Homo sapiens: one gene and its partner. The protein of the gene in region 2 interacts with the protein of the main gene of each other region in a pairwise test. Each region holds a gene or a part of one and is shown on either strand. Other genes may lie near its edges. The genes, in order: ZNF365 and NDE1.

Region 1 (8,132 bases), on a different chromosome or scaffold from region 2:
CTGACTTGTAATGTACACTTTTCTAGTTTGGGTTAAATCTATACTTACTGATAAAGAAATGCTTCTCTAAGTATGATGATTTCTCAAGCAATAGCTTCTATGATCTATAACTTGTGAAAACCAATCTCAACTCTTTGCAAGTGGGCAAAACTTAAATATAACAAAAAAAAATACATCATTTGCCAAAAAGTCAAGTCTCAAACTTAAATCATAGAAGTATAGCAATATCAGAAAGTCTTTCCTCTGGGTGCCCTAATGTCTGCTTCTCCCAAATATAAATTAAATTAAATGGATTCTCAGCTACTAACATTTAATTAACCTGGGCAGATAATACAAAATGGCAAATAAACCAAACTTATTTATACTGGAGGAATGTTTTTGAACTTAAGACAGCATCTTGCATTGACTTTATAATACGGAGACTGTCAAGAATGAACAGCTCACTTAGCTCACCCTTTCTGCCTTCCCATTCAACTCACCCTTGCACGCCATTTGGTGCTAGGAATGGATCCCACCATGGCTAGGCTGTGCTAGTCTTCTCTCTAAAAGCATAGTCTGTGGTTTACAAATTCCCAGTTGAGAAGGAATTAGATATTTGACTTTAATGCTGCTAGGTTGCAGACCGTGCACACAGAGGGTAAATGATATCAAAGCCTTGTTCCTCCTGGTTCAACTATATCAATAAGAAATGCAGTCAAGGCACCTGCAAATAGCAAAAATCAACCTTGCTTAGCATTTGCTTGTAAGGCGATTGGGGTGCTGCTTAAAGCAATGGGGTTAGCATCCCCTGTCAGCAACACTTACTCTTCTTTCCTAAGAAGCTCCTCCTCAGATTCCGTCAGGCGTTGCCTCAGTACAGCTATCATTTCCACGGCCACGTCCACCTGTCTGTTTAAGGCCCGCTCTCGTCTCTGAACTTCCTGCTTTTTCTGAGTCAGCTGCACAAAAGCTGCCCGAACTTCCAACAGTTCCGCAGTTTTCTGGGCCAACTCTTTGGTGAGTTTATCAATTCTCTTCTCAATGGTCCTATCCACAGCCTCAACCATTCGATTGAATTTTTCTCTGACATGTGCCTCGAAAGAAGCTTTGGTGTCTGAGGTGGGCAGTCCAGGACCCGACCGTGTCCCATCCAGCGAGTCTGCATGGAGGTCCATGGCAGTGTAGGTCTGCACATAGGACACAGGCCTCTCTGCCACCACCTCAAATGGCTTCCTGTCCTTGGAATGTTCATGTGAAATGCTGTACAAGTTAACATAGCTCGGTTTCTGCTTTACCACGTTGCCACTGCTCTGCAATTTTCCCGGTTTCAGGAGTTCTGAGGAAGTGACTAGGTCTGTGTCTTTGAGGGATGGAAAGAGACTGCATTTTGTCAAGAGGGTTCTTTCTTCGTAGCTGTGACTGAACTCCAGATGGGCCCTCAAGGATGACAAGCTTCTAAATCTGGTATGGTCTCCACACCTCGGGCAGCGTAATGGCAGGCACACAGCAACATTCTCAAAGGACTCCTGCCAGGGATATCTGCTTTCCTCAAAAGCCTTCTGTTGCATTACTCTAAAAGTCCTGGGAGGGGGGAAATAGGTAGTTTACAAGTCGGCTGAAAAACACACTACTAAAATGATTGCTGCTCATCTCCATGACAGCAGAGGCTTTTTGGTTTCAAGTGACTTTTGCACATAATATTTTATGTTGCACTTAAAACCTACAGCCCATGGGCCAAATCCATCCACATCAATTTCTGCATTATTTACTGCTGCCGTATCAATTTCTGTATTATTTATTGTAAACCACAATGGCAGTGGTGAGTAACTGAGACAGAGACTCTATGCTCCTAAAAGCTAAAATATTTACTACCTTTACAGAAAAAGTTTGCCAACTCCTACCTAGAATCAAAAAGGTGGGTAACATTCCCTCTCCACAGAAGAGAACACTGAAGCAAGGAAGTAAAGCCATTAATCCAAGGTCAGATGGAAAGTGGTAGATCCAGAAGTGGAATTCAAGTTTCCTCCCCTCCTGAATTTGGCACACTAAATGCAAAACCGTGCCCCATTTTAAGGATACAATCCGAGATGCGTGAACACAAGAACATATGAAAACTCACATGAATTGTCAAAATGGGTCCTAAGACAGCAAGCTCAGGACCTATCCTCAAGTACAGGAAAGATTACTCAAGCTATGCACAGTGGCATTAAGCCTGCAATCAGCTGAAAATTTTTCACCCTGAAATTTTTGCCTTTTTTTCCTTCAGGTATTGCTGTGATGACATAAACCAAAGTGCTAATCGTAACAATAACAGACCCCATACGTGAGTTTCACTGAAACCTGGGGACCCAATGTGTCAAATACCATTTGGCATAAGTGGGGCCATGGCCAAGATTTTTATTATAATAGAGTGTTCTGGACGGATTTGTCTTGTCTCAGATGCTATTTTATATGACAACCTCTAGGGATGGTCAGTGTGTGAACCAGGTAGGTATCAGCATACTCTCTTAATAACAGGAAGTTCTGGTTTCCTTGTAGGAATGCATTATCTTCACCCTAGCAACAGATGACTGTTGGCAACCCAATTCTGCAAGCAGTGCATATCTTCTATTCCTCCATGAAAGGTTTCTACTTAAATGTAACAAGCATTGGACCCGAAATGAGGGAGCCCAGCTGGGGTCTTTGGGTGAAAAGTGTCCTCAACCTCTTCAAAAGCAGAGGTGCAAATGGTCCCCAGGCAGCGAGGCAGGCAAGGCTTCTAGGTGAAGCCCCCGGCCCCCAGAGAGGGGAACCTCTTCCTGTGATGGGTACACCGGGATGTTTAACCACTGGTTTTCTGGGAACGAGATGCAAACCCTGGCTCAGCATAGGGCCAAAGACGCTGACAAGAGGTAAGGAAAGGGGAAGTCAGGATTCTAAGGGGGCAATGGGAAAAGGGTGGCATTTTGGATGGGGAAATGGGTAATCACACACTCCAGAGCACGCAGGCTTTTATGGGCCCAGAGGAAACCCAGTCCACTGGGCTGATGAAGAGCCCTAAGTGACTCTGCCAGAGAAGGGCAGGCTGGCAATGACCCTGCCCCGGGGTCCCAGCTCTCCCCGCCCCCTCTCCGCTGCGTGCCAGCCCACGGGTGCCAGAGTGGATTCGTGTGCACATGAGTTCCTGCTGGTGGGGGCCGGGAAGCCGGCTCTCCCAACTCCCCGCCATGCTGCGGGCTCGGGGACCCCCTCCCCAGCCCCGGCCACCCCGGCAGGTCCCCTCCGCCGAGCCGCGGGCGCAGATGGCCGGCGGCCGCCTCTTACCCGACTTGTTGCTGCTGCTGCTGCAGCCGCCGCCTCCGGTGCTGATGCTGCGGGAGCGAAGCGGTTTTCAGCAGAGCCGTAAATCAGACTGAGCCGGGCCGGCTCCCACTCCCCGCCGCACCTCCGCGCCGGGACCGGCGGCGTCCAGGGCGGAGCGAGGCGCGGCTAGCCAGCGGGGGCGGCGCTCGCGGGCACCGTGGGGCACCGCGCCGTGGGTGCGGGGGTTCCGGAACGCCGCGGCCCAGGGCTGCCACCTCCGCGGGGAACACCCTTGCTCTGCCCAGCTGGCGGGAGCATCATCTGCCCCCCCGCCACCCAGCCGGGAGCCCGATCCGACTCAGGATTACACTGACATCACTGCGAGAGATGCTGGGATCATTCCCCGGGGGAGGGAAGGAAAGACGCGTGTCAGCCTCGCAGTCGCGGCGCTTTCTGCAGGCCCTGGCAAGCTTTTTTGCACTAGTTTGGGGGGAGCGGGAGAGTGTGGATGAGGATGCAGCATAGCTGGGCATCTTCTTTGAAAATCTACCCGTTGGAAGGTCCGGGTATTTAATTAGGACCTCTTCATCCCAAGCAGCAGGGCGAGAATGTCCCAAAATAACTAACCCAGAGAGTACACTCCAGCCTTCCTAGCCAAGTGTCCTGAGGCTACGTTAACAGGCAGAACTAAATCTAGTAAAGTGCAGGGATTAATGAACAAACAGTTAAAGCAACAAGATCCCTCACCTACACCCCCATTTCTGAGGCGGACGCCCCTTTCCCTGGAGAAAAAATTTGTCCTCCTAAAGAGGGGATGTCCTGAAGAGAAGACGGCAAATCATTCCTTCTGAAGGACTCTGATGTCTCAGCTTGCTGGGCTTTTGCTTTTTTTTTTTTTTTTTTTTTTTTTTAACCTGTTTTGGTTTACCCCTACTGTAACTCCTGAAATGTGAAACCTAGATAAAAGTTACTGCTGGGTTTTCTTGTTCAAAGAAGAGAAGAGATTCTGTTCATCTGTAGACAGTTAATGCATCCTCTTGACTTCTCAGGGTGTCTTTTCTCAAGGCTTGCTGTTACTCATTTCAACACCCGATTTTATTTTAACGGTAAAGAGCTCAACAGTTATCTTAGTTGAAATTTTGTTTTGTTTTTGACAAATGAAAACAAATGAATTGCTTTGTTTTTTCACAAATGAATTATCACATCAAATGCAATGAAGATCCCAAGCTCTGGCATCAGACTTGATTCAAATCCTGGTTCTAGGGCCTGGGTCAAGTAACTAGACTTTTCTGTTCCTTCAATTCCTCATCTATGAAATGAAGATAATCAAGACCTACCTCTTAATATAGCGGTGGATCGAATGTGCTATGATGATGGAGGTAAAAACCCTGCCTGACAGGGACACACACTGATAAAGTCAGCTGTTATCGTTGTTGCTACTTCATTTATAATTATTATTAATTCCATAAAAAAGGGGCCTACACACATTTAAAAAGCAGGAAGGAGAAGAGGAATTAATATGTACTAACTTCTACGTAAATGGAGATAGGCTATTGTGCTGGGGTGTGTTTGCTTTGAAAATATTATATCTCATTGAAGTTACTTTTTGACTCGCTCTCAAGACTATTCCAAGAATCAATTTATTTAGTACAAAATCTTAAAGTCTGAAAGATACACTCATTGGAGTGCCAAGTTATCTCCGTCATCTTGTGAGGTGCCTGCAGGTTAACCTCTTACACCCACTGCCTTCATGGCAAAACATAACAAAAGCATGCTCTGGTCCTCCCTTCCCCCCCGCCCCTTTTTTTTTTTTTTTTTTTTTTTTGAGACGGAGTCTCACTCTGTCTCCCAGGCTGTAGTGGCGCGATATCAGCTCACTGCAACCTCTGCCTCTTGGGTTCAAGCGATTCTCCTGCCTCAGCCTCCCTAGTAGCTGGGATTACAGGTCCCTGCCACCACCCGGCCAATTTTTGTATTTTCAGTAGAGACGGGGTTTTGCCGTGTTGGCCAGGCTGGTCTTGAACTCCTGACCTCAGGTGATCTACCGGCCTCGGCCTCCCAAAGTGCTGGGATCACAGGCGTGAGCTACCGCGCCCAGCCAGCTCCTCCCATTTCTTAGACAGCTGCTACTTCTTTTTTGGTCCTAAGTTCCTCCCCTGTTAAATGAGAGGATGGAGATTTTCAAAGTCCTTTTCTCACCCTAAAAATATAAAATATTATCAAATAATTATGGAGAGGTTATTCTGTGCAGGGCCTAAAGCTGAGTATTGTGGGAAATTCAACTTGGTCAACAGGCATTTAGGACCTTAAGTGGTTCTCAAAGTGTCACTTGTGTATACCACCAATTACCTCATTTAATCTTTGAACACCTGTGAGGTAGGGAGGACCTTGTACACTCAGTTCTAGCCACCTTGGCATCCCTTTACTTAAGAGCCCTGCTTTTTCCCGTCTCTAGGGCCTCTTTATCTGGTAATGCCTACTCATCCCTCAGAGCTCATCCCAAGTATGCCCTCTCTGAGGAGGTCTTCCCTGACACTCCTGGACAAGGTTAGTGCGTACTAGGAAAATTTATTATGACAGGATTTGTCACAATAATTCTATGTGCTGGGTTATGGATGTAGTTGTCTGTTTAATATTTATGTCCACTGTTAAGTTGTAAGCTATGTGAGTCAGGGTCCTTGTCTGTCTTACTCTCCAGTATATTCCCAGGACTTAGCACAGTGCTGATCAAAGTGCTCAAAAAATATTTGTTAAAAGAATGAATGCTGAAGAAATAAATCCCCTTTCTACATAGGAGGAAACAGGCCCAAAGAAGTTAAGTAACTTTCTCAAGATCACAAACCTAGAACACATTACAGCCAGGATGGCAAACCCTGGGCTTTTAACCACTGTACTCATTGGCTTTCCAGTTTTTGATGAAGAAAATAAAGTTCTAGGAAGTAAAGTGACTTGCCTAAAGTCATATAGGTAATAAAGAATAAAATCAGGGTTAGAGTTCATGTCTTCAAACACTGATGTTTTTCTATGCCACATTATGCTGTTTTACTCTGCCCTCCAGGCACTTACAACTAGTGGAATGAGAACAAGGCATATATATATGATAGATATATGAGATATATATCATATATATGATAGATATATGAGATATATATCATATATATGATAGATATGAGATATATATCATATATATGATATATATATGAGATATATGATATATATATCATATACATGATATATATGATATATATATCATATACGTGATATATATGATATATATATGATATATATATCATATATATATCATGTATATGATATATGATATATATATGATATATATGATATATATGATATATATGTGATATATCATATATATGATATATATATGATATATATGATATATATGATATATATGATATATATGTGATATATCATATAGATGATATATAATATATGTGATATATATGATATATATGATATATATGTGATATATATGATATATATGATATATATCACATATGATATATATCATATGTGATATATATGATATATATCACATGATATATATCACATATGTGATATATATGATATATATCACATGATATATATCACATATGTGATATATATGATATATATATCATGTGATGTATATGATGTATATGGTATATGTGATGTATATGATGTATATGGTATATGTGATGTATATGATGTATATGGTATATATGATATATATGATGTATATGGTATATATGATATATATGGTGTATATGATATATATGATATATATGGTATATATATGATATATATGATATATATGGTATATATATGCATATATATGGTATATATATGATATATATGGTATATATGGTATATATGGTATATGAGCATATATATGGTATATATGAGATATATATGGTATATATGAGATATATATGATGTATATGATATATATGATATATATGATGTATATATGATATATATGATGTATATATGATATATATGATGTATATGATGTATATATGATACGTATCATATATATGATATATATATGATACGTATCATATATATGATATATATATGATACGTATGATATATATGATATATATATGATACGTATGATATATATGATATATATGATACGTATGATATATATGATATATATGATATATATCATATATATCATATATATCATATATGTATGATATATATGATATATATACTATATGGGATATATATGGGATATATATGATATATATGGGACATATATATGAGATATATATATGGGACATATATATGAGATATATATATATATGGGACATATATATGAGATATATATATATGGGACATATATATGAGATATATATATATGGGACATATATATGAGATATATATATATGGGACATATATATGAGATATATATATATGGGACATATATATGAGATATATATATATGGGACATATATATGAGATATATATATATGGGACATATATATGAGATATATATATATGGGACATATATATGAGATATATATATATGGGACATATATATGAGATATATATATATGGGACATATATATGAGATATATATATATATGGGACATATATATGAGATATATATATATGGGACATATATATGAGATATATATATATGGGACATATATATGAGATATATATATATGGGACATATATATATATAGAGAAGTTAAATATATGTTAAAATGAATTAAATGGGAAGTGTCTATAGGGCCTGACATCATGCCTGGCACATAGTAGATGTTCAATAAATGTTTGCTGAATTGTTAATGATCATAGCTCTCACCTTTAGAGTAATTACAATGGATCTTACTATATTAAATGTTTAGGCACATATCCAG
Region 2 (7,294 bases):
GGACCCATGTTCAAAGATGCACACCATCATTCACGAATGTGGAAAACTGGAAACCTCAATGTCAACAGAGGACTGAATGGAAAACGATGCAGTTGTTAAGAACTGTAAGTACTAATATGGAAGAAAGCTCAGGATATGTTAAAAATGGGTGCCCATTTTTGTTTATTTCCCTCTCTCTGTACACAGAATAGAAAAGGGTCTGGAGGATGCACCAGAATGGGGGTAAAGCAAGCCCTGTGGATTTGTACCTGACACCTTGCTTTAAGGTAAACTACATACACATATATACAGTAAGCATAGATCGCTTTAGAGATTTTAAAAAGCTTAGGCCAGGCGCGGTGGCTCTCTCCCACCCCGGCACGTTGGGAGGCTGAGGCGGAAGGATCGCTTGAACCCAGGAGTTCGAGACCAGCCTGGGCAACATAGTGAGACCCCAATCTCTACAAAAAATTTTAAAAATTAGCCAAGCATGGTGGCATGTGCTTTTAGTCCCAGCTACTTGGGAGGCTCAGGCAAGAGGATTGCTTGAGCCTGAGAGGTCGAGACTGCAGTGAGCTGTGATTGCATCACTGTGTTCCAGCTTGGGCGACAGAGTGAGATCCCGTCTCAAAAAACAAACAAACAAAAACTTGGACAAAAAGTAAAATAGCTATTGTTCCAGGATAATTTTATTCTACTGAACCAAGTGACAGGGAAAGAATTTTTCCTACTGTGGTTTTGCCTCCTCCAACCCTTTTCAAACATTTCTTGAATACCTACTAAGTGCTGGGCACTGCTGAAGGAGGCAGACAAAAAGCACCCACATCCATTGCACGAGGTGCACGTGTAGTACTAACTGCAGGCACAAACTTTCTGTACACAGGAATGCTCATGTTAGGAAATTACCTTGTGAGGAAAAGGAGTGTCAATTCTCGGCTCACATTCTAAGGCAAAAGAACACACTTTGGGCTGCATGCAGTGGCTCATGCCTGCAAGTAATCTCAGCACTGTGGGAGGCCAAGGCAGGAGGACTGCTTGAGCCCAGGAATTTGAGACCAGCCTGGGCAACAAAGCAAGATTCTGCCTCTACATAAAAAATAATAATAATGATAGAGTCGGGTGCAGTGGCTCATGCCTGTAATCCCAACACTTTGGGAGGCTGAGGTGGGCAGATCACGAGGTCAGAAGTTTGAGACCAGCCTGGCCAATATGGTGAAACCCCATCTCTACTAAGAATTAGCCGGGCATGGTGGCACGCACCTGTAATCCCAGCTACTCAGGAGGGTGAGGCAGAAGAATCACTTGAACCCGGAGGACTGAGGTTGCAGTGAGTCGAGATCATGCCACTGCACTCCAGCCTGGACAAGAACAAGACTCCGTCTCAAAATAAATAAATAAATAAATAATAAATAACACACTTTGGAAACAAAAATAAGTCAAGTTAATAAACTGTTATCCAACATGGGATAAAATATATGAATCACAGGCCCCTGAGACTTCAGCGGCACAGATCATCTGCATTTAATCCTACACAAAACACACACTAAGAGGAAAGGCTCAAAATGGGTTGTAGGCCGGCACGGTGGCTCACGCCTGTAATCCCAGCACTTTGGGAGGCCGAGGGGGCAGATCACGAGGTCAGGAAATCGAGACCATCCTGGCTAACACGGTGAAACCCCATCTCTACTAAAAATACAAAAAATTAGCCAGGCGTGGTGGCACGCACCTGTAGTCCCAGCTACTCCGGAGGCTGAGGCAGGAGAATCGCTTGAACCCGGGAAGCGGAGGTTGCAGTGAGCCAAAATCGCACCACTGCACTCCAACCTGGGCGAGAGTGAGACTCTGTCTCAAAAACAAAAACAAAAAAAAAAAAAAAAAAACGGGTTGTATACCAACGAGGTGATGGAGGCTGGGGTGGTCGGGTAACAAGAGGCTTTAGGAGTAGCTGGGATCTAATTAATCTTCAAAACACCCGACCCATGTCCTAAAATGCCATCCTATGCTAGAATACACTATAACAAAACTAAAAATGATGAACCTGCCTAGGTCGTGCTGCAAAGGCCTTTTCTTTAGAAAGTTAAAAGGGGCCTGAGGCTCAAAGTAGAAATTAAGAGGCACAACCTGGTAGTAACCACGGACAAAGCAATCAAGGAAGCTCAGGCCCTCAGGAGGCAGAAAGCCTGAGATGGCTCGGAGAAGATAAAGTCGCCTCCCCAAAAGCGGTGTCAAGGTGACAGCGGGGTTTCCCAGGACCTCAGAGACTCAGGTCCTCAGTGAGCCCAGCCATCACTCAAGCTGCGGAATAAGCATTTTCGTCCTTTACCCAATCCCTCCCCAAAGTGCTGTCAGAAGAAACCTGAACCGTCCTGCGGCAGAGACGGGAGCAAAGCGGAGAGCAGACTGCCCCAAACGTGTTCCCGGAGGGAGGGAGCAGGGTGGGTTTTTGGAAAGAGGCCTGCAGGGGCGGGACAGTGGGTGTGAGGGCAGGGGCAACGCTGCAATCGAGGGGTCTGGGGTCGCAGAGAAGCGGGTGGCAGGATGGAGGAATAGGAGAGAGAGAGAAAAGAAACGAGGGTCATCTAGGAGAGGAGTATGGGGAGGAAGGAAGAGGAGAAAGAGGATGGAGCCTGGCAGCGGGGTTTGGGGACCGGCAAGGCTTAACCACCCAGGAAGTCCCGGAAGGAGAAGAGGGCAACGGGGTGGGAGAGAGACCAACGCAGAAAGAGAAACAAAGTTGCCAAGGGCGAGGGGCCAGCGCGAGGAACGCACCGGTGGCAAGGCACTCAGTGCCTAACTTTTTAGGACGGGAGGCTCCAGGGAGGCGGGATTTTGGAGCCCAGGGACCGGGGGAGTCCAGGCGGCCGGGAAGCGACGCGCAAGCGAGGGGCGTAGGGGTCCCTGCCAGGCGGTGGCCCGGGGTCCCGGGATCCTGGGGCGGGGCAGAGGAGCTTTTCAGCCGCGGTGGAGGTCCCCGGACAGCCACCCCGACCCCAGCCCCGCGCAGCGCCTCACTTACCCGAGCAGGGGCGGCGAGGCCAACGCGGCGGCGGCGGCAGAGGCGGCTGCGAAGGGCGGTGCGGCCCCGGCCCTCCGGACCCCGCCCCCGCCCCGGAGCCTGCGGTCGGCGCCTCCCATTGGCTGCTGCTCTACGGTACCGCGTCCGCCTCGGCCAATCAGCGCAGAGCAGCGTCGTTTGGAAACTTTTTTCCCAGGCCGGGCGCGGCGCGGCCAAGCGGCGAAGGCTCCTGGCCGGAGGGGGTTTGAGAGGCGCCGGCTGCCGGGCGCTGGGCTGCGGCGGGCTGGCGGGCATTGGAGATGCTGCAGAACGCTGCCTGGACACCCGGGAAACGGGTTTGGGCTTGCGGGCCGCGCATTTCAGGAAAATACGCCGGCCTCTCCTTCACTTCGATTGCATTTTCCCATTCTTGCACTTTCTCCAAATCAGAAGGAAAGACAAAGATTCAGGCCCACTGAAGCTAGCAGTGCCCCGTGCCCTTCCTACTCCTTTACACCAAAAGTAGAATCTTCAGCATCATTATCTTCTCCAGAAGCAGGAGAACGTAGTGCACCAGAATTTGGTCATAAACTTGGCTTTGAGTCCTAGTCCTGCCCCTTACTAACTGTGTGGTCTTGGGAAAGTTGTTTAGCCTCTATGACTCCGTTTCCCCATCTATAAAACGCCATTATGGGTCTGGCGCGGTGGTCACGCCTGTAATCCCAGCACTTTGGGAGGCCAAGGCGGGTGGATCACGAGGTCAGGAGTTCAAGACCAGCCTGGCACATGGTGAAACCCCGTCTCTACTAAAGATACAAAAAATTAGCCGGATGTGGTGGCACGCACCTGTAATCCCAGCTACTCAGGAGGCTGAGGCAGGAGAATCACGGGAAACCGGGAGGTGGCGGTTGCAGTGAGCCGAGATCACACCACTGCACTCTAGCCTAGGCGACAGGGCAAGACTCCGTCTTAAAGAACAGACAAACAAACAAACGACATTATGCAGAGGACTAAATGACTTAACAGCATTTGTAAAAACGTTTAGAACAGAAATTTGAACTTAGTAAGTACAATATATGTATTTGTTAAATGATCTTGATTTTGTTTATTTATTTATTTTGAGATGAAATCTCCCTCTGTCTCCCAGGCTGGAATGCAGTGGCGTGATCTCCACTCACTGCAACCTCTGCCTTCTGAGTTCAAGCAATTCTCCTGCTTCAGCCTCCCGAGTAGCTGGGATCACAGGCCCGCATCACCACACCCGGCTAATTTTTATATTTTTAGTAGAGACGGGGTTTCACCATGTTGGCCAGGCTGCTCTCGAATCCCTGTCCTCAGGTGATCCACCCACCTCGGCCTCCCAAAGTCCTGGGATTACAGGCGTGAGCCACCACACACTGCCTGAAGATCGTGATTTTTAAATGGCTGTGTGTGCCAGGCACAATTCTCACAGCAACCCTAATTGTTCACTAACAAATTAAAATTAAAAAATAATTTTTTTCTTTTCGAGACAGAGTTTCCCTCTTGTTGCCCAGGCTGGCGTGCAATGGTGCGATCTCGGCTCACTGCAACCTCTGCCTCCCAGATTCAAGCGATTTTCTTGTCTTAGTCTCCCTAGTAGCTGGGATTACAGGCGCCCACCATTACGCCCAGCTAATTTTTTGTATTTTTAGTAGAGACACGGTTTCACTGTGTTGGCCAGGCTGGTCTCGAACTCCTGACCTCAAGCAATACACCTCAGTCTCCCAAAGTGCTGGGATTACAGGCGTGAGCCATGTAACTCAGAAGGCAGAGGTTGCGGTGAGTGGAGATCACGCCACTGCATTCCAGCCTGGGAGACAGAGGGAGACTTCATCTCAAAATAAATAAATAAATAAAATCAAGCCACCATGCTTGGCTGGAATTTCTTTTTTTCTTTATTTTCTTCTAAAACATCCTGTCATAACATGTTCATTAACAAATACCGAACATTCTGGTTAGTGGGTACAAAAATAGAGTTAGAATGAATAAGATCTAGTATTTGGGAGCACAGCAGGGTGACTACAGTCCACAACAATGTATTGTACATTTTAAAATAACTAAAGGAGTATAATTGGAGTGCTTGTAACACAAAGAAAGGATAAATGCTTGAGGTCATGGACACCCATTTACCCTGATGTGATTATGATGCATTGCATGCCTGTTATCAAAATATCTCATGTACCCCATAAATATAAACACCTACAGTGTACCCATAAAAACTAAAAATATATATATTATTATCCAGCTTTTTTTTTTTTTTGTGAGACAGAGTCTCACCCTGTGACATAGGCTGGAGTGCAGTGGCATAATCAAAGCTCACTGCATCCTGGACCTCCCAGGCTCAAGTGATCCTCCCACCTCATCCTCCGGAGTAGCTAGGACCACAGGTGTGCACCAACACGCCCAGCTAATTTTTACATTTTTTTGTAGAGACGTGGATCTCACTATGTTGCCCAGGCTGGTCTTGAACTCCTGGGCTCAAGTGATCCTCCTGCCTCAGCCTCCCTCCCAAAGTGCTGGGATTATAGGCATGAACCACAGCACCCGGCATTATGAGCATTCTTCTGTACAATGCACCCTTACAGCACAGTGAATACAGTCAGACAAAGTACCTGTCCTCAAAGGGCTTATATTGTTAAGAGAGAAACATACTAAATCTATAAGCAGAAAAAGTAACGTCATTTCAGATACTGATAAGTGCTATGACTAAGGCAAGCCCATTTGATACAACGGGCTGGGAGGGGTCACTTCAGATGCTATAGTCAGGGAAGGCCACTGTAGAGAGGAGACCATGCAACTGAACCACAGGTGATGAACCACAGGAAAGCATTAAATTGTATCCATGTTAAAGATAAGAAAATAAAGGTGCAGGAAGTTAATTGAGTTGTCCGAGGTCTTACAACTAGTAATTAACAAATCAGGCTTCAGAGCTGGCTCTGACTCCTAAACCCTCCTTCTTCAGCACTATGCTAGAGGCAAAGAGATCTTAGCTATTACAGGATCTCCCACCCCATCTTGCCTTCCTGCTATCCTACAACAGCCTTTCTCAAATTCTACTTTGAACTCCTTGCTAATTCCTAAAAACTGCTTAGAGGCACAAAGGGGAACCCCACCACCTATCAACAGGTTTAAGGAAAGTACCAAATGTCTTTCAGGAAACTTCCCAAACATTAATGAATCATTTACATGCTGCTTCACACTTTACTACGTCTGATGCCTTCCCCCTTGGAATTTTATTTTATTTCGAGACAGAGTTTCACTCTGTTGCCCAGGCTAGAGTGCAGTGCTGCAATCTCGGCTCACTGCAACCTCCACCTCCCGGGTTCAAGCGATTCTCCTGCCTCAGCCTTTCGACTAGCTGGGATTACAGGTGTTCACCACCATGCCCACCTAATTTTTCTATTTTAGTAGAGGCAGGGTTTCACCATGTTGGCCAGGCTGGTTTTGAACTCCTGACCTCAAGTGCTCCACCCGCCTCAGCCTCCAAAAGTGCTGGGATTACAGGCATGAGCCACCACACCAAGCCTCCCCTTAGGAATTTTATTACTTATTTACTTATTCATTAAGATGGAATCTCACTCTGTCGCCCAGGCTAGAGTGCAGTGGTGCGATCTCGGCTCATTGTAACCTCCACCTTCCAGTTCAAGCGATTCTCCTGCCTCAGCCTACCAAGTAGCTGGTATTAACCCCCCTTGGATTTTTTTTTTCTTTTTTTTGACGGAGTCTCGTTCTGTTGCCCAGGCTGGAGTGCAGTGGCACGATCTCGGCTCACCGCAACCTCTTCCTCCTGGGTTCAAGCGATTCTCCTGCCTCAGATTCCTGAGTAGCTGGGATTTCAGGTGTGCACCACCACGTCCAGCTAATTTTGTAGTTTTAGTAGACACAGGGTTTCACCATGTTGGTTTGGCCAGGCTGGTCTCGAACTCCTGACCTCAAGTGATCCACCTGCCTCGGCCTCCCAAAGTGCTGGGATTACAGGCGTGAGCCACTGCGCCTGGCCCCCCTCGGAATTTTATTTGGCCCTAACCACTCTGTGACGTTTCTGGACAGGAACTAATCACCTCAGCTTACAGAGAAACCGAAGCACAAACTGATGAGGTACTGGTGTTGCCTAAATGGCTTTGATCAAGGTATTTAAACTAGTTGGTTCTCAATTTCCCAAATTTTCCATAAAGAAAAAAGAGAGGGCATTGAAATAATAATCCTTAAAGTCCTATTTGGGAACAACATTTAGGGAAATAGGTTTGTCATTGGGTAAAACCTTAAAAACATTTAAAATGTTTTTCTTGTTCTTTTTAA

The links.
Region 1: the proteins of NDE1 (region 2) and ZNF365 interact in binary tests that used the Homo sapiens proteins (3 or more experiments, as listed by UniProt).

The regions. Positions count from the first base shown.
Region 1 is NC_000010.11:62,369,609-62,377,740, reverse strand, and holds the start of ZNF365 (protein ZNF365), read right to left. Parts: upstream 3,373-8,132; 5' UTR 3,283-3,372; intron 2,871-3,282; exon of another isoform or gene 2,614-2,870; intron 1,561-2,613; 5' UTR 1,548-1,560; coding exon 805-1,547; intron 1-804. UniProt on the Homo sapiens protein: Involved in the regulation of neurogenesis. Negatively regulates neurite outgrowth. Involved in the morphogenesis of basket cells in the somatosensory cortex during embryogenesis.
Region 2 is NC_000016.10:15,645,996-15,653,289, reverse strand, and holds the start of NDE1 (nuclear distribution protein nudE homolog 1), read right to left. Parts: upstream 3,046-7,294; 5' UTR 2,996-3,045; intron 1,275-2,995; exon of another isoform or gene 1,240-1,274; intron 1-1,239. UniProt on the Homo sapiens protein: Required for centrosome duplication and formation and function of the mitotic spindle. Essential for the development of the cerebral cortex.